Homo sapiens: one gene and its partners. The protein of the gene in region 4 purifies or fractionates together with the protein of the main gene of each other region. This does not show direct contact. Each region holds a gene or a part of one and is shown on either strand. Other genes may lie near its edges.

Region 1 (4,247 bases), on a different chromosome or scaffold from region 4:
TTTAATGTTCTCGTCATCTCAGATTGTGAACGTTTTCCCAATTTATTTTTAGAGCCTAGATTCAGATTTATCAGATGGACCAGTCACTGTACAGGAATTTATGGAGGTCAAAAACGCTCTAGTGGCTTCTGAGGCCAAGATACAGCAGCTAATGAAGGTGAATAACAACTTGAGTGACGAGCTGAGAATTATGCAGAAAAAGGTAACATGTTAATAAATGCCAGGACGGTTGACGCTTTAATCCCATAGTACAAGGAAGAATCTCAGGCACTGTGATGTGGTCCGAGGAAAGAAAAACAGTTATTGTAACAGCCTTAGAAATCTTTGGGCCAAGTTGTCTTTTTGAAGCAGGATGTATTTGGATATTTAAAATGAAATATATCCAGAGTAAGTTCCCCAGGTAGGAGAAACCTAACATCTATTTAAGCATTTGTGCCCATTAGAATAACCCTTGGACTATTCTGTGCTTCCTGGAAACCTGGATGGGGCTCCATGGATGTGATTCTTCCCATTGCTAGGGAAGGATGATCACACCATGGAGACAGAGCCAATGAGAGCCCTGGGCAGGGGCATGTTTATCAGCATTCAAACCCTGCTCCCACCCTGGCAGCCCTATCCCACATCCCCACCTTATTGCTCACCAGTTTTTACTACTAACTTGTATTATCCCCAGAGCCTACAGGAGGGCCTGCCACAGAGTAGGTGCTCAAAAAATAAGAAAAAACATTTCATTTGTACTAGGAAGAGCTGCACACTGGTAAAAAACAATCTCATTTGCTCAGCATTTTCTCATTCATTACCTTTTGAGAGAATCAGAACCGTGTGAATATATTAATCCCTAAAAGGAGTGTGGTTGATGGTAGCAAGGAATACCCTTAGTAGGAGGGGGATTGTGTATGCAACTCCTTATGAGATGGCTAAATAAGGGAATTCGAAAAATTGCAAATTTTGCCCATGACTTTGTGGGTATCACTCATCATTCAGCTCTAAAATGAGATTTGGACACTTTACTTAACCAGAAACAAAATGAAATATATAATCTATGTCTTTAGGCTGTCATTTGAGAAGTAAGGTTTTCAAATCATTTTCAAGACCTGAGGACGTGGCACACTCCATGTGTGCCTGGACTCTTTTCAGTGCTGCTTCCTAAAGGAAGGTGGAAGAACTAAAAAGGGGCCCATGCCCCTCTGTTTACTAGGGAAGGAAATTGCTGTGCACTTTTGCCTGGGGTTTGGTCTAGGATTCTTTTGATGTTGACTTCTAGAGCATTTTTGAGACTTTTTGAAATAAATGGCTCTAATGCCTATAGTAGCAGGGAATGAAGAATGCTTAAGATCAGCTAGCCTTAAACGAACAGACACTTGTTCTGTGTCTCCCAGCCCTGTCTAGGGCTGCCGTGCAGCTGTAAACGAGACAGACCGAGAGCCCCTTTGTCATAACATACAGGACCTGTATTTTCTTTGCCTTCTTTGGAATATATTTTATTTAGTGGATTATAGTTTGTTCCATTAATTGGACTAATAATTTTGACCAGGTGACTATTTCTGAAACATGCTGATTTTGCCACTGTAAATCAATCTGCTGCACATCACCTTTTAAAATCTAACAATGCTTCTTTTAGTATTTTTGGAAATCACCAGAGAGAGCCTCATTATCTCTGAAAGCAAATGTCTTGAGCTTCTTTGAGAAATGCAAAGTGAAATTATTTGCTTTTGCTTATTGATTATCTCATCAATTCTTAGAAGTGCTTTTGATTTCTGAAACTATTGAATTGTCTATAACTTTTTATTTTCCCTTATACTCCTTCCAAATAAAAAAGTGTAGCCTGGTTCTTATTAAGATAAACGTCATTAAAATTTATGTGAAGACATCTCTCTAAATACAGAGTACTAACATTTTTAAAAATTGAAACCAAGAACTTGTGCTCATGAGAACACATTCAGACAAAATCCAGGCATGAAAAGTGTTAGGATAAAGTTTCAGATTTCAAGGCCTTAACTAAATAACTGCCACAGAGGCTTTTTATACAGACAAACACGTGATCACATGCACCAGTGCCCCATTGAGGGACCTGTGTCAGTTACACACCTCAGTCCTTGAACCTTGACCATTTCACTCTAGGCCCTGGGTTCTCTAATGAATAGTTTCAACAGGCACTTCATGCCTGTCTGTATCCTGGAATGTAGAAATGTTCAGGGCTGCTTTGTCAGCTGCTTTGCAGCTGTTCTTTCCCTGGAAAGGGAATTGCAGATATGAGCTATACCCTGCCAGCCTTTGTGATATAAAAGCATTCTATCATTCTGTAATGGCTTGCTCTTCAGAGAAACAGAATGAGTGGTCTTTTTGTGGAAGAGGCAGTAAGTCACACTTTCACAGCAGTTTGGCATGATTAATATAAAGTATATGGAATTTGTTTATTTAGCAAAGATGTATTGATTATATTTCAAAGTTGGGTAAAGTTTTTAATATACATAAAGTTGACAAAGTAGCATGATTTGTATCTGATCTTTCACATTTAACAGTTGCTTGGAAAAGATGCTAATTAATGAAGAGGAGCAACTACTATTGGTGTATTTTTCACAGATTGGTGCTTTCTAAATAAAAATTGAAAGTAACTCCTAACATTGAATGGGTTTGCTACTGAAAAAGTAATGATCTTCTGGTGCAAACAGTTGCTTGTGGACTTAAACCTTGGCACTGGTGGGGAATTTGGTCAGATTTTACAATCTCTGTCAAAGAGTAGACAGCTGAACTCACACCACACCCAGCTTATAGAATGTCCATGGAAGATGAAGGCGCACCAGAAGGGAAGGACCCTGCGCAGAATGGACGTGGTGAATGGTGTTTAAAATGCCAGATGCCAAAGAGTAACACGATTCCCTGCTGACCCCTTAACTCTAATCCATCCAGCACCATGGAGCAGCCTGCATGTGAGGAATGGAAGGAGCATTCAGGGCCTCCAAGTGACAGTCTCTAAAATGGGGTGGTGCCAGGCAGATTAGCATGTTCAAAGCTGACACCACTGAGGTCGTGTTTTTTGGGTGACAAAGCCAAAGGAGAGAAAGGCCAAATATTCCAGCCCTGGCCGAAAGATGATCACTCACCAGACGGAAGCAAGCGTGCTGCGTGGAGCATCCATGCGAAGATGTCAATTCCATAGATCAATAGGTTTCCAGTTTTCTTCGTGATATGTTAATATAGCAAACTTACCATGATCCGGTTTTCTCTTTTTTCTTTTTTTTTTTACAAAGTGCTGAATTGTTTGGAATATCAAGAGTATTATGTAATAAAAACTTGTTGATCATAATTTTTCTTGTTGGCTTTTTGGAAAGCAATAGGCGATCTGATTTTTCACAAGCTGAACTTCTGTCTTTCTTGCTTTGCAAAGCAACCCTAGTCATCTTTGTGCTGCTTCCATGGTGTCTGCTGTCATTTTTGGCCTTTACAAATTGCTCAGGGCTCATTTGAAAAGCAAGTTACCTAAATGATGTTTTAATGATCTCGAACTCTTGCTTGAAACAGCCTTAGTAATAATCCAGTGTACAGCTTGCCTGCAAACATTTCCCAGCCCCACCATGACAAATTTTAAAGTGGTTAGACATTTTGTTTTGAGGAAGTCCAAACCACAACTTTTCCACATTCAGAAATGAAGCTATTTAATTTGCTTACGTGATGAAGGGAGTTGATTGTGTTTCACCCAATCCAGAAGAAAGGGTCCTTGTTTGTATTGGCTTTTTACTTTCAGCCCGGCTAGCTGTTACTGTCCTTATTGTTTAAAACTGGTAGTTGTATTCATTTACTTGGTGTTTGCTTTTTCTGCTTGCTGTAAAAAAACACAGTCCCACTGCCAAACATTTCTTTCAGCTTCAAACACTCCAGAGTGAAAATTCGAACCTCAGGAAACAGGCCACAACCAATGTATATCAGGTGCAAACTGGTTCTGAGTACACAGACACTTCCAACCACTCTTCCTTAAAGAGACGTCCGTCTGCCCGGGGCAGTAGGCCCATGTCCATGTACGAGACCGGATCAGGTCAGAAACCATATCTCCCAATGGGAGAAGCGAGCCGCCCCGAAGAGAGCAGGATGAGACTCCAGCCCTTCCCCGCGCACGTAAGTAACACCACTGGCGCTTCTGCTGTTCACTCTATGCAGCCTGTCTACTCTGTTCCCTCTTCTGAACCTACAGGTCCCCACAGCTCTGCTTTGCCAAATTGGACTAAGAGAGTTACCATTGTGTTTGCTGT
Region 2 (4,247 bases), on a different chromosome or scaffold from region 4:
CTGTAGTTTCTTTGATTCCCACACAACTTTGCAGTTAGGGTGAACTTATTCTTCACAAACAATTCTTATCCTTAGGGCTTTGCACAGTTTTTTTCTTCTGGAATATGCATCTCCACAGCCTCCATTCTCCCTATACACAAAGAGACCCCTTTTCACCTGGCCAATTTCTAATCCTAAGCCTCCCCCTAATATAGGTTGGGCCTCCTTTTATTTACCCTCACACTGCCCTGTGGTACACAGCACATTCCATTCCTTATGTGTCACAGAGCATCAGCATCACCTGAGGGACTAAGAAATGTAACTCCTAGGCTCTGCTTCAGAAATTGATGCATTTTATCTGGGCTAGAATCAAGCATATTTAGAAAACCAAGAACAACTTGGGTGATTCCAATGCACTGTGAGCATGGAGAACCACTGTGTTGTTGTGATCACCTGTTTTCTATGCAGCCCTCAGGGAAGTGCAAACCTGTGAGATCAGGCACCATTATCTGTCTTGGACTTTGTATTCCCAGTTCCTAGCCCAGTGCCTGGTATGCAGAGGGAGCTCATATTTTTTGAAAGAATGTGTGAAGAGACCTGCCTCTGGGAGTCAGGAATGTGACAATTGGGAAATCCAGCAACAATACCTGCTTTTCCAGTACCTTTCTCCTAAAAGTTACTGGATCCTACAGATCTTAGTGGGCGTATACTTGGTGTTAGAAGAATAGAAATCTTTCTAATTCCCTTCCTTTTCCCCATTTTGCAATTGTGGGTTGGCTGAAGAAAAGAAGACAACATGGGAAAGGAAAATCTGGGTGATAAACGGATTAAACCTTTAGGTTACCGCTGCTCTAGATAAACCCATGATGTGACTTTTTGTTTTTCTCCTAGGTCAGCTGAGGGAACAGCTCAGTTACCTTAAGGGTGATAATTTTTTTAGGTTTACTTGTTCGGATTGCTCAGCAGATGGCAAGGAGCAGTATGAAAGGCTGAAGCTGACATGGCAGCAAGTGAGTAAAAAGCCCTTCCCCAAATCCATGAGGGTGGTTCCCCCAGGAGTTTGTTGGAACGAATATCTAGAAACTTAGGGATGAGCTTTTGAGTTGTTTGGAGGGGCACTTTTTATTTCGCAATGAAATTAGATACCGAATATGTGGAGAAGGGAGTGAAAAATACTCGCTGTAATCCCAGCACTCTGGGAGGCCAAGGCGGGCAGATCACCTGAGGTCAGGACTTCGAGACCAGCCTGGCCAACATGGTGAAACCCCATTTCCATTGAAAATACAAAAATTAGCTGGCTATGGTGGTGGGCCCCTGTAATCCCAACTACCTGGGAGACTGAGGCAGGAGAATCGCTTGAACCTGGGAGGCGGAGGCTGCAGTGAGCCCACACCGTGCCACTGTACTCCAGCTTGGGCGACAAAGTGTGACTCCTTTTCAAAAAAAAAAAAATATATTCACTGCTGACTTGGTGAATTGGGCTTGAGAGGCTTGAGAATCTCATGATTTCTTTTATATGTGATACCAAGCTCTGATTATAATTGAAAATGAAATTCTCATTTTCCTGGCAGCCATTTTAAGAACAATAAAACTATTTTTTTAAAGTGGAAAGATGGCTATGTTGAAAATAGATTTGGAAGAAGGAAGGTGACTGATTGCAAAAACCAACATAACCCAGCTTTTCTGCATTTGAACTCGGAGATGTTTGAATTTTTGTTTGCTGAAATACTTGTTCCTTTTTAACTGTCTCTAATATCAGCACCCTAATCTAAGTCAGCTGTATCCTAAACAATAGCTTTTTGCTGATCTCCAGGTTGTATTAAATTGTTTTAGTTTTGTTTCTATGTCAATATGTTAATGTATAATATGAATAATAAGGCATCAGTGTATACTTTTTAGTTCAAAAACCAGATGAAACCAGACATGGTGGCTCACATCTGTAATCCCAGCACTTTGGGAGGCGGAGGCGGCCAGATCACCTGAGCTCAGGAGACAAGCCTGGGCAACGTGGTGAAACCCCGACTCTATAAAAAACAGGCCAGGCGCGGTGGCTCATGCCTGTAATCCCAGCACTTTGGGAGGCTGAGGGAGGCAGATCACCTGAGGTCGGGAGTTCGAGACCAGCCTGACCAACATGGAGAAACACCGTCTCTACTAAAAATACAAAATTAGCTGGGTGCGGTGGCACATGCCTGTAATCCCAGCTACTTGGGAGGCTGAGGCAGGAGAATTGCTTGAACCCAGGAGGCGGAGGTTGCAGTGAGCCGAGATCGCGCCACTGCACTACAGCCTAGGCAACAAGAGTGAAAGTCCATCTCAAAAAAAACCAAAAAAACAAAACAATACAAAAATTAGCTGAATGTGGTGGTGGTGCACTCCTGTGGTCCCAGCTTCTCAGGAGACTGATGTGGGAGGGTTGCTTGAGCCTGGGAGGTTGAGGCTGCAATGAGCTGTGATCGAGCCACTGTACTCCAGCCTGGGTGGTGACAGAGTGAGACCCCATCTCAAAAAAAAAAAAATTATATATTACTTAGTTTTTATGTTCATTCATTCATTCAACAGATACTGAGTACCTGTTATGAACCAGGTGCTGTTCTAGGCCTGAGACTACTGTGGTGAACGAGACAGCTAAGGCCTCTGCCCCAAGACAGCTGACATTCTATACTTAATTTTGATAATAAACAGATCAACAAGATAATTACCCACAGCACTTTTTACTTTGAAGGAAATAGAGTAATGAGAAAGATTTTAAATTACACCATTTTAGCCACTTATGGTGTTCCTTGTAAATTGTAGTTGCCTTAGCAGCCTTCGTCTATTATCTTAATTATCAGTGCTTTATTAGGACAGCTGATGAAATCTGTCAGTGTTGAATTAGGAAGCCTTTTCTTTGACTTGCCTGAAAAAAATGTAAGTAGAAAATGAAGAGAAGTTTGTATTGAGGATAGAGCCTTATGAATATTATAACTGGGACATTTTTCTCAAGTGTACATGGGATACTGTGTGTAGGCAAGATCTTATTAATAGATTATTGTGATATGTGCACACAGGTAGATTTGTATTTGTCCTGCAAGTTGTTTCTCATAAAAGCTGTAAAATGGAAGAAGAGCAAATATATGTAAATTTTCAAAAATGTGAGTTTTCTGTAGTGGTTCTTTTTAAAAGAAAAGCTGGCTTTTGCTTATTTTGCTCAGAGTATGTAATATTGGCTCACTTTGCATATTTATTTATTCTTTTTAAAAAAAAATTTTAAATCTTTTTGAGGCACAGTCTCACTCTGTTGCTCAGGCTGGAGTGCAGTGGCACAATCTCGGCTCACTGCAACCTCCGCCTCCCAGGTTCAAGCAATCCTCCTGCCTCAGCCCCTCTAGTAGCTGGGATTACAGGCATGTGCCACCATGCCTGGCTAATTTTTTGTATTTTTAGTAGAGATGGGGTTTTGCCATGTTGGCCAGGCTGGTCTCGAACTCCTGACCTCAGGTGATCCACCCACCTCGGCATCCCAAAGTGCTGGGATTACAGGCGTGAGCCACCGTGCCCGGCCACTTTGCATATTTAATTAGACTAACATAACTTGCAGATTATTTTTTCACTTCCAAAATACGTATTGATGGTGGATACTAACCTGGTAGGGTGAAGTGATAACTTAGGTTGCACATATGTGGTTCTTAGCAAACAACTGACCAGTATTTCTAGTTGCATCTGAAAAAGCCCATCTCTCACTGAAGACCTGAAAGAGAATCAGTTGGTCTTGAATGGACTCCATTGATGTAGCCACATTCTTAGTATATTGAAATGTGGGTTTTCCGTCTTTAAATTTTAAACTTTGAAAGATTTACCAAAGAAATATGTAGAAATGCTTGTAACACAAATAGCATTTTGTTTGTATTATAAAATACTTACAGTAAAGAGGTCTGATCTCCTGATTAAAAAGCCCCTTCTTGCCACACTCCCTTTCTGTGTCCTCTCCTCTTCCTTGGTGACTCCTGTGAATAGCAGTTCCATACGTAGGAGAAACTTTATCAAACATTTGGGAAGGATAGGGAAGTTTTTGCATTCTTTTCCTGGAGACTCATTCTTATGGCACAAGTAAAGATACTATGATCGATCTTTGCTTGTTATTTTTCTAGTGTTCTTCAGCATATACTGAGTACCTGCCAGCTCTGAGCTAGGCCCTGTGGATACATTGGTCCACAAGATCAGCCTCATTACTGATGAGCTTGGTCTGGTAACATGAGAGCAGAAAACTAAACTGGGGTTCATTTTTT
Region 3 (4,774 bases), on a different chromosome or scaffold from region 4:
GTCACAAATTCATTATCCAAAAATCAGGCTGGGCATAGTGGCTCACCTGAGGTCAGGAGTTCGAGAGCAGCCTGGCCAACATGGTGAAACCCCATCTCTACTAAAAATACAAAAATTAGCCAGGTGTGGTGGTGCATGCCTGTAATCCCAGTTACTCGGGAAGCTAAGGTAGGAGAATCACCTGAGCTCAGGAGGAGGAGGTTGCAGTGAGCTGAGATCGCGCCACTGCTCTCCAGCCTGGGTGAGAGAGTGAGATCTCCGTCTAAAAAACAAACAAACAAACAAACAAACAAAAACAAAAATCAACGCATTTCTATATACCAGCAACAAGTAAAAACTAAGACTTTAACAGATACCATTTACAACGGCATGGAAAAATATGAAATAGGTGGTAATATATGAGATGGAAGACCCCTACAGAGATCACAAAGAACATCTAAATAGATAAGCCCACACCCACAAATTATAGGATGCAATATAAAGAGGACAGCACCCCAGAATGAACTGCAAGTTCAGCTCAGCCTTAAAATCCCAGCAGGCAGGCTCTACGTGTTTAAGAAGTAAGTATATAAGATACATGTGGAAGTGTGAAGGGACAAGAATAGCCATAGATGATCCCGGAGAAAGATACAGTGGGAGGGTTTGCTCCGTCCGCTAACAAGGCTTATAAATAAAGTGACAAGAACCGACTTAGTGGGTTATTAGCACATCGATATGTAAATGACCAAAAGAACAGAGCACAGCCCAGAAACACATCCACAGCAGAAGCTGCAGTGCAGATCAATGGAAAAGGACAGTCATTTCAATCAACGTTGGGTGCTGGACTAATTGCACATCCATGTGGAAAATTAGACTCCCTGCTTCACACAATCATCAATTCCACGCAGACTGAAGATTCAAGTGCGAAAGGTAAAACTGTACAGCTACGCCAAGATAACCCAGGGAGTGTTCCGGGCATGTCCCTCGGGGAGACACAATAGGCACCAATGATAGTGGGCGGATGAATACACCATCTATGTTAAAACTAGGAGCTTCTATTCATCCATGATTCCAGGAAAAGGGCTGGGCGCACAGATCACACCTGTAATCCCAACACTATGGGAGGCCAAGGCAGGAGGATCACTTGAGGCTAGGAGTTCAAGACCAGCCTGGGCAATACAGTAAGACCCCCATCTCCATACACATGCACAAAAATTAGCCAGGCGTGGTGGCAGCGCATCAGTCCCAGCTACTACAGAGGTTTAGGAGGGAGGACTGCTTAAGCCCAGGAGTTCAAGGTTAAAGTGAGCTATGATTATACCACTAGACTCTAGCCTGGGTGACAGAGTGAGACGCTGTCTCAAAAAAAAAAAAAAAAAAAAAAAAAAGGATTCCAGGAAGCTAAGTCAAAGTCAAAGGACAACTGGGAGATATTTGTAACTGAAAAAGGACTGATATCTAGCATTTATAATAAATAATAAAAAAGACACTCTTACAAAACAATGGGAAAAAAGAGAATTTAAAAGCAGATTTGAATATACAATTCTCAAAGCAGAAAACCAAACAGCAGGCCGAGTGCCATGGCTCACACCTGTAATCCCAGCCCTTCAGGAGGCTGAGGCAAGCAGATTGCTTGAGGTCAGGAGTTCAAGACCAGCCTGGGCAGCATGGTGAAACCCTGTAGTCCCAGCTACTCAGGAGGCTGAGATGGGAAGATCTGAGGTGAGGAGGTCAAGGCTGCAGTGAGTCACGATGGTGCCACTGCACTCCAGCCTGGTTGACAGCGCCAGACCCTGTCTCAAACAAAACACAAACACAAAAACAAAACACTCTGAAAAATAATTTGGCATGATCCTATGATCCTCACAATTCCACTCCTAGATGTTATACCCTAGAGAAATCCAAGATTCCAAACACCTGAACATATGACCGTAATGTAGTAACGGGATGATTTACAAGAGCACAAAAGCTAAGCGTGTCACTGTGGCAGAATGGATAAAGTGCCTCGTGCTCACAGACAGGAATACCACGCAGCAGTGAAAATTAAACTGCAGTCAGCTGCAACGTGGATGAAACTGTCACGGCGTCGACCAAAAAGACACATGCACGCCACACACAAAATACACTATGATACCATCACACTAACTCCAAATCCGGCAACCAAGCTGTGCCATTTAGGGGTGCATAAATAATTGCTCACACCGGGGAGATGGCACAGAAATGATTACCTTTCCAAAATGAGGAAGGGGAAAGGAAGAAGGCCGTGATTACCAGTGGGAGGCTTCCAAGGAACAGGCATGGTTCTACTTCTCCACCTGTGTAAGGATCACAGGAGTGGCTCGCGATGCTATTATTATTCGTTAAACTGAACAAAAATGCACTTTTCCATACATGTCATATCTCAATCAAAAGCAATTACAACCTATAATAGCTAATAATACATCAGTAGCCAGGAACGTTTAAACAACCATGGGGCTTCAATAGTCTGCAAAACTACTCGGTTTATTTCGCACGGAAAGCGATACAATATAAAGTTTAGGAAAAAAGAAAACAAACCTCACACACCCACTTATTGGAATGACGCAAAACGGCGTGTAGAAAAGAGTAAAACGGACACAGAGCGCTCCGGACGGCCGGGGTCTTTGCGAGGTGAGAACAAGAAAATCCAGTCAGCGGACACTGGAGCTACCGAGCCCAGGCCGCCCCTTCCTCACGCGGGGGTTTCTCTCGGGATCCCCGCCCTCGCCCAGGTCACCAGGGCTGCGTCCCCGACGGGAAACCCCGATGGGAGACCCCGCTGGGGCCGGCGCACCCCCGCTCCAAGAGTCGGTCGCTTCGGCACGGTGGGGGATTAGGGTGGTGAGGACCGAAGGCGGGGGAGGCGGGGGCGGGTGGGGATGAGTACCCGGGGGCCCAGGGAGGGGAGTGAGGACCTGGGGGTCGTAGCGAGAACCCGGGGCCCGGCGGGGAGGAGATTGAGGATCCCAGGGGAGGTGAAAACTTGGGTAGGGGTGAGGACGAAAAGTAGGGAGGTGAGGACCCTAGTGGGGGATTCCCAGGGGGCGAGGAGGGGCGGGGGGTCCTGAAGACCCACGGTGGGGATGAGAACCGAGGTGGGAGATGAGGATCGAGGCGGGGGATGAGGACCCAGGGGGAGGTGAGGACTGGAGGGAGGTATTCGGAGGAGCGAGGAGGGGGCGTGAGGGCGGGCCGGGGGGGTTAACAGTCTGAAGGGGGATGGGAAGGTTGGGGGAGGGAGCGAGGAGGGTCCGGAGTTGGGTGTGCGGGTCGGAGGTGGGAAGGTTGGGAATCTGGGGGCCGCGGGGCGCCACGCCTGCCTTACCTCGTCCACCGTGCGGCGCGGGAGGTGCAGCGTCCCGAGTAGCAACTTGAGCTTCACTGCCGACGAGAGGCCATGGAAGCAGAGACGGATGTTGTCGATGACCGCGGCCGTGAGCAGGGACGCGATGCTGGGCGGCGCCCACAGCTCGTCCGTGGCCCCCAGCTTGTTGTGCAGCCACAGGCCCGTGTCGCTCTCCCGCATGGACGCCATCTTGGGGGAAAGCGCGCGCCGCTGCCCCGGCATCTTATGAAGACACCTACGCGTCCCTCGCTAGGACCCCAACATGGCGGCGCCCGTCGGGCTGCGGGCCGCAGAGGCGGCGCAGGTGGCGCGGTCCCACGAGCGGGGCTTCCCGGGAGAGCGCTTCTGGGTGGCGACCGCGTCTCCGGGTAGCGGCCGCGTCTTCGGGAAGCTTTGTGGCAAAGCCGAGAGCCGGAAGGACGGGGTGCCGCTGAGCAAGGACTATCGGCTTCCGTAAAACATCATGGCGGCGCCCTCTGCTGGCTCTCGGGAAGACCGCAAAAAATGACGTCACGAGCAGGCGCGCGTATTCGCGTCTTGGGAGCCCGGGCTGCGGCCTGGCATTCGCAGTGCAGGTGTCAAGCGCCGCAGACTTGCTGCTCGCGCGGTGGGGCGGAGGCTCCCTGTGGCACCTGCCCCGCTGTCCGCTCTTCGCTTTTTCCCCGCTTGGGTCTCGGCGCGGACCGTGTGGACGCCCCGCCCCCGCGGGCCCAGCACCTGCACGGAGAGGAGCCGCGGCCCTGCGGAGCGAGCCTGCGGGATCCCGGTCGCAGCGCTGAGCTTCCGTCCCCCGCTGAGCCCGCTCTGCCCGTGGCGCGCCGCCGACGGGGCTGCGCTGAGCATGCGGGTCGGAGGGCGCTCGGGAGCTGTCCAGGGGCACTCGTGACCCCACAGTGCAGGGAGGCCCCGGCCCCCAGTCGGGCTGGAGCCGCCAGGCAGGAGCCAGTAGTGAACTTTTCAGTTTTAAAAGCTTGTCATTAGATACAAACATGAGTAAAAGTTAAACTTCATTTTATTAAATTCGTTTTACCCTTTTGTCTTTTTGACGAGGCCTTCCTATGTTGGCCAGGCTGGTCTCAAACTCCTGGGCTCAAGCGATCCGCCCGCCCGCCTCTGCCTCCCAGAGTGCTGGGGTTACAGGTCGGGGCCGCCTTGCTTGGCTTCTGTATTATATCTTTTTTTTAAAAGATCTTTTCCTTATTGTTCCACTGCCATGCTCCTGCCGCCGTTCACAGCTATTGCCACTGGGCGGTGGGAACGCCGGGAGAACAGGGCTCAGCCCAGCTGCTAGCAGTGCCCTGGCCCTGGCGGCTTGAACTTGGCAGTCCTGCGGAAGTCACACGGGGGAAACCCGCAAATGCTACAAATCAGTGCTGGAGCGGTGGTTTTGTTGATTGCTTAAACTGAAGAAAGTGATAGAGAAAATGTTGA
Region 4 (5,475 bases):
CCGAGCTCAGGCAATCCTGAGTGCTCCCAAGTGCACTCAGGCCTCCCAAGTGCTGAGGTTACAGGTGTGAGTCATGGTGCCTGGCCCAATGATTCCACTTTTATTTGCTCTTACAATCCCTGTAAAATTGCTCTTGAGGTGTTATTAAATTTAAAAATGAATAAATATATAAACAAACAAGAAAAGCTTGAAACTACTGCTTGACGCTTTCTTAGACATCCACATTCTGGTTGAGGGCCTTCCTCACTAGTCCCATGTCATGGCTAGAATCCACCTGCCCCTGATCCTCTCACCCTCAACTTCCCACAGCTACCCACCTGCAATGTCACACATTTCAGCATCTGTGGCATGTGCCAGTGCCTCCTCCAGCTCAGGCTCCAGGGTGATCTGCTCCTCTGCTGGGATTTCCCTCTTGGGCTGAATATAGGGTTTCCCTGATGGGGAGATGAAGGATGGCTCAGGTAGAGGTAATTTCTCCCAAGATCCTGGCCTCCAGGTTTCCTTCCTCCTCCAGGAGGTAGAATGCTGCGTCACGAAGGGACACTGGAAAGCCTGAGTCCTCTACAAACTCAAGAGTCCTTAGCCCCCTGATCTCTCAAGAACTGAAGAGTGCGGGGCTGGGCGCTGTGGCTCACGCCTGTAATCCCAGCACTTGGGGAGGCCGAGGCGGGTGGATCATGAGGTCAGGAGATCGAGACCATCCTGGCTAACATGGTGAAACCCCATCTCTACTAAAAATACAAAAAATTAGCGGCCGGGCACGGTGGCTCATGCCTGTAATCCCAGCACTTTGGGAGGCTAAGGCGGGCAGATCACGAGGTCAGGAGATCGAGACCATCCTGGCTAACACAGTGAAACCCCATCTCTACTAAAAATACTAAAAAATTAGCCGGGCGTGGTGGTGGGCGCCTGTAGTCCCAGCTACTCGGGGGGCTGAGGCAGGAGAATGGCGTGAACCCGGGAGGTGGAGCTTGCAGTGAGCCGAGACTGCACCACTGCACTCCAGCCTGGGCAACAGAGTGAGACTCCGTCTCAAACAAAAAGAAAAAAAAAAGAACTGAAGAGTGCAAGCTCGCATTTAAGTGTCAGGGCATCTGAGTCCCTAGGCAACTAGGAGCTGGAAGGTGAGAGGGAAACTGGAGTGGGGACGAGTGAGAGACAGCACAGCCACTTGGGTTCTACGAGGCATGGATGTCAGGGTCCCCATACCCTTCTTCTCGCCTGTGAAGGGCACCAAGTCATCACGCTCTTTGACTTCTAGTGCCTGTTGCTCCAAGTACTGCAAAAGGGCCTCTCGGTCCAGTGGCCCCGTTGGGCTCTTCTTTGTCTGGTCACGTTGTCTTAGTCCAGCTGGCAGGAGCATGTTCTTAGGGATGAGTTTTGGGGAGCAAGTCAGACCTCCCCTCTGACCTAGGTACTGCTAGGGCTCCCTAAAACATCACCGGACACCTTTCCCCTGGCCTTCTTAGGACCCTAGGTCCTGTAGCAAACCCTATTCTCAGCCACCCAGAGCCCAACACCCTTCCCAAATGCCTGGGACTGCCTCTGGTTCCCTGTGCTGGAGCCCCTACCTCAGGATCCATCTCCTGTAGTTCGCAGTCCAGCTGCTCTAGCTCCTCGGGGCTCAAGGTCCTTAGGATCTCATCTTCATCTATGTCTCTGTATTTCTCCAGTTCCTTCTGATATGATGACATGGTGGCCCCCACCCCCTCCCCACTGTGTGGTACTCACAGAGCCTGGGCAACATGGGACAAAAGGATGGACAATGGTAAGATGGACAGGGACACAGCAGGGACACAAAGAGACCAGCCAGGGGGGCAGAACATTGGATTGGATTTCTTGGAGATTAGAAGTCTAGTTGAGGATGGGAAGTGGGGAAGATTAGGTTGTTTAGAGTTAGAACTAGAGTCTCCTTTCTGCTTCCCCAGCTTCCAGCCACTCTGGATGGGGATCCCAGACATCTAAGCTGGGTTTGTCTTCCCACGGTATGACAGAGAAATCCTGGCAGCACCCCTCCCCTATAACCTCACTTGTCAGTGCCTTCGCCCTAACACAGCTGCTGGAAGCCCTGCCAACACAGCTGGTCCTATGCCCAGTTCCTATTGAAAGGGGATGAGGGGTGGGGGAATAGAGAGCTTCAGGGAAATTCCTCCTCTCCTCCTCATAATCCAGGCTTTTTCCTAAACCGGATAAAAAAACCAAGGACAATGAGGTGTAAGGGGAAGAGAGAGTCTCTTACCCCATCCTCATTTCCCTTTTATTGTGGGGGATCAAGATTTCACTTTCTGTGTTTGCTAAAATTTGAAGTCTTAAGGGAAAGCAAGGGCTCGGAGCAGTTGGGGGACTTCCAGGTTGGGGGAAGGGTAGTAAGGCCTCTGTGAGTCCCCATAATCTGTCCCTTGCTTTGGACAGGAAGGTGACACCAGACCAATGGGTGTAAATAGGGTAAAGTTTCTTTAAAAACAGTGGGAATATTAAACTCGCACAATTTTGTACAATATAAGATACGCATAAGGAGCTATGCATACACACCATGCTGAATATGAAAGATCCAGAAAGTATGTGAGACACATCGACAATGTAAACTATACACAGTTAAGGGGTAGGACGGCACAGTGGCAGAAATATACACTGAGTGACAGAGACAGGGACACACTCCACATCATTCCCCATAGGAGCCACTCTTCTCCTCCCATCTCCCACCGGGCTCTCATCCATAAGCCCCCTGTCTTCCCCACCTACCAGTCCTGGTGGTCACCTCCCTTCTCACCTCCCCTGTGTCAGTAGGTCTGTCTGTTCTACTAGAGCACTGTCCCAGCAGCAGGAGGAGCCCGGTGCCGGGGGAGAGGGTGGGGGAACAGTGAGCTCAGCATTTTATTATTTTAGCTCTGGCCAGGTGGGGGGTAGTGGGAGATCACATATACACAGCCCCCATACCCTGCCCAGCCCTGAGAGCCTCTAGTGGTCATTAACAGCCATGGCATCTCTTCCACTTCCCTTCATACAAGCCCCAGTCTGAGACATATGAGTTCGACTAGAATCAGCCAGTTCCTCCTTATTTGGTGCCTGCTGTATTCAAAACAGTGAGTGTAAAGTGATAGGAAGGTCAATACAAGGATGTGTTTTGGTGTGCAATTTTCAGATGTTTATAATTTAGTTGGAGGAATGAATACAATTTAGAAAGGACAGCTCATAATAAATGCTATCGAATAAAGACCCAAATATATGCAGGTATTCAAATACTTCTTGCTCCCAACCCTAGACTGGACACCAGACAAAAGGGATCTTTCTATTTTATTAGATTAAAAAACACAACGAAACCTGTAAGAACTAGGGGAAAAGGAAAAAGAAACAGATTAGGCAAAGATCAGAGATGACAAAGGGGAGAAGCAGGGAGAAGAAACGGAACAGCAAGAGCCCCAATCAGGGCAGGAAAGAAGTTTCTGAGGACTAGACATCTCTTCATTTAATGACAATTTTCTGGCGCAAGGCTCGGGGCCCAGAGCCAGGGAGGGGCTCAGGAGGTGGCGGGCCGGGGCCCAGGGCTGAGGCAGTGGGCGGCAGTCCATGGGCAGTAATGTACTTCTTGTAAGCCTCACGAATGATCTTGAAGGCTCGAGCAGTGGCATAGGGTATGTCTGTAACAGGGTCCCGGTATAGGGCTGGACGATGGGTCACTGGACAGACCTCACGAACAGGGACTTTTGGGGGCCGCCCTTGGGGGAACCATTCCTCGAAAGTTGCATCATCACTAAAAGTGATGAAGGTACGTGAGCAGCGAGCAGGGGGGTTGACGGGTCCAGTCCCAGCATGAGGAGTCAATGCAGACACCGAGGGAGCAGGATCAAGTCTGAGGACAAAAGACAAGGAAAAACACAAAGAGCTGAGGAGAGAAGACAACAGATACAGAAAGAAGGAAATCAGGCTGGGTGCAGTGGCTCACACCTGTAATTCCAGCACTTTGGGAGGCTGAGGCAGGCAGATGACGAGGTCAGGAGTTCGAGACCAGCCTGACTAACAAGGTGAAACCCTGTCTCTACTAAAAATACAAAAATTAGCCGGGCGTGGTGGCGGATGCCTGTAATCACAGCTACTCAGGAGGTTGAGGCAGGAGAATCACTTGAAGCCAGGAGGCGGAGGTTGCATGGAACCAAGATCGTGCCATTACACTCCAGCCTGGGTGACAGAGCAGCGAGACTCCATCTCAAAAAAAAAAAAAAAAGAAAAGAAAGAAAGAAGGAAATCAGAGAGATGAGGAAAGAGAAAAAGGAGGCAGGGTGTTGGGAACATTCTGAGGAACGTACTAAGTGACTGATGGGAAAAGAAAGCTAGGCTAGAAGGAAAAACAGGAAAGAGAAGAACAGAGAAGCTAAAAGAAAAAGGAATAAGAAAGAAATAAGCTGGGCTGGGCGCGGTGGCTCACACCTGTAATCCCAGTATTTTAGGAAGATGAAGCGGGACGATTACTTTAACCCAGGAGTCTGGGCAACACAGCGAAACCGTCTCTACAAAAAATACAAAAATTAGCATGTGTGGCTGTACTCCCAGCTACTTGGGAGGCTAAGGTGGGAGGATCGCCTGAGCACAGGAGGTGGAGGTTGCAGTGAGCCGAGACTGCACCACTGCATTCCAGCCTAGGTGACAGAGCAGCATCATGTCTCAAAAAAAAAAAAAGAAAAAGAAATTGAGCTGAAGGGAGTTAGGAATCTGAAAGAAATCTCCAAGTGTTAAGGAGAGCTGTGTGAGAAAAGCAAGCAAAATGGGGCCAAGAGAACATGAGCTGAACACACAATCTCTTTTCCTCTTGAGATTCACTCACCCTTCTATGTCAACGTTCTCTTCCTTGGGGCCTGGCTCCCCAACAAGTGGCACTGTCACTGAATGATAGGTGATTATGGGCCCGGGGCACTTCCGCTTCTTATGAACCTGCTTCTTTTTATCAGCCTCGAGCCGCTCATATGTCTCTTTAGGGTCAAAGGAAGAAATGAGGGGATGATCAGAATGTCCCTTTTTCCCATATCCCAGTACTGTCCCACGATCTCTCAATTATCTTCCTGGCTATCTAGTCACTGCCAACTACCAGAGACAACTATGGAAGTCCCCTAAGGCCGTCTGGCACCTCCCATTTTGTAAGTTTTCTGCTTATAAGTTTTTTCTTGACATCCTCTCTGCTCATTTCTCAAGTACACCTGGGCCCTCTATAGTACCTCAGAGTTGGAAGGTACCCTTTGATGAGGAGCTTATTTGCTTTCCCAGATACCAAAATCTCCTCTACAAATGCCCTGTCAATTCACTCCTACAGCTGGGTGTGCTGGCACACGCCTGTAATCCCAGCTACTTGGGAAGCTGAGGTGGAAGGATCGCTTGAGCCAGGGAGGTGGAGGTTGCAGTGAGCTGAGATGGCACCACATTGCACTCCAGCCTAGGCAGCAGAGTGAGATCATATCTCCAAAAAAAAAATTAGTAAGGTAGGAA

Evidence for each region. Proteins that work in one complex are often made in the same cells at the same time.
Region 1: the proteins of TMOD4 (region 4) and GIT2 purify together in Homo sapiens (affinity purification with mass spectrometry; 2 studies listed by BioGRID and IntAct, with this or other methods). This does not show direct contact.
Region 2: the proteins of TMOD4 (region 4) and KAT14 purify together in Homo sapiens (affinity purification with mass spectrometry; 2 studies listed by BioGRID and IntAct, with this or other methods). This does not show direct contact.
Region 3: the proteins of TMOD4 (region 4) and NELFA purify together in Homo sapiens (affinity purification with mass spectrometry; 2 studies listed by BioGRID and IntAct, with this or other methods). This does not show direct contact.

The regions. Positions count from the first base shown.
Region 1 is NC_000012.12:109,947,122-109,951,368, reverse strand, and holds part of GIT2 (ARF GTPase-activating protein GIT2), read left to right. Parts: intron 1-52; coding exon 53-202; intron 203-2,522; coding exon of another isoform or gene 2,523-2,546; exon of another isoform or gene 2,547-3,864; coding exon 3,865-4,113; intron 4,114-4,247. UniProt on the Homo sapiens protein: GTPase-activating protein for ADP ribosylation factor family members, including ARF1.
Region 2 is NC_000020.11:18,144,363-18,148,609, forward strand, and holds part of KAT14 (cysteine-rich protein 2-binding protein), read left to right. Parts: intron 1-736; exon of another isoform or gene 737-870; coding exon 871-989; intron 990-4,247. UniProt on the Homo sapiens protein: Component of the ATAC complex, a complex with histone acetyltransferase activity on histones H3 and H4. May function as a scaffold for the ATAC complex to promote ATAC complex stability. Has also weak histone acetyltransferase activity toward histone H4.
Region 3 is NC_000004.12:2,005,428-2,010,201, forward strand, and holds the start of NELFA (negative elongation factor A), read right to left. Parts: upstream 3,548-4,774; 5' UTR 3,533-3,547; coding exon 3,323-3,532; intron 2,620-3,322; coding exon of another isoform or gene 2,536-2,619; intron 1-2,535. Other genes in the region: uncharacterized protein LOC124900839, read right to left, coding at 3,579-4,334. UniProt on the Homo sapiens protein: Essential component of the NELF complex, a complex that negatively regulates the elongation of transcription by RNA polymerase II.
Region 4 is NC_000001.11:151,173,182-151,178,656, forward strand, and holds the start of TMOD4 (tropomodulin-4), read right to left. Parts: upstream 2,801-5,475; 5' UTR 2,743-2,800; exon of another isoform or gene 1,737-2,742; 5' UTR 1,695-1,736; coding exon 1,572-1,694; intron 1,367-1,571; coding exon 1,210-1,366; intron 435-1,209; coding exon 318-434; intron 1-317. Other genes in the region: VPS72 (vacuolar protein sorting-associated protein 72 homolog), read right to left, coding at 3,463-3,883, 4,820-4,964. UniProt on the Homo sapiens protein: Blocks the elongation and depolymerization of the actin filaments at the pointed end. The Tmod/TM complex contributes to the formation of the short actin protofilament, which in turn defines the geometry of the membrane skeleton.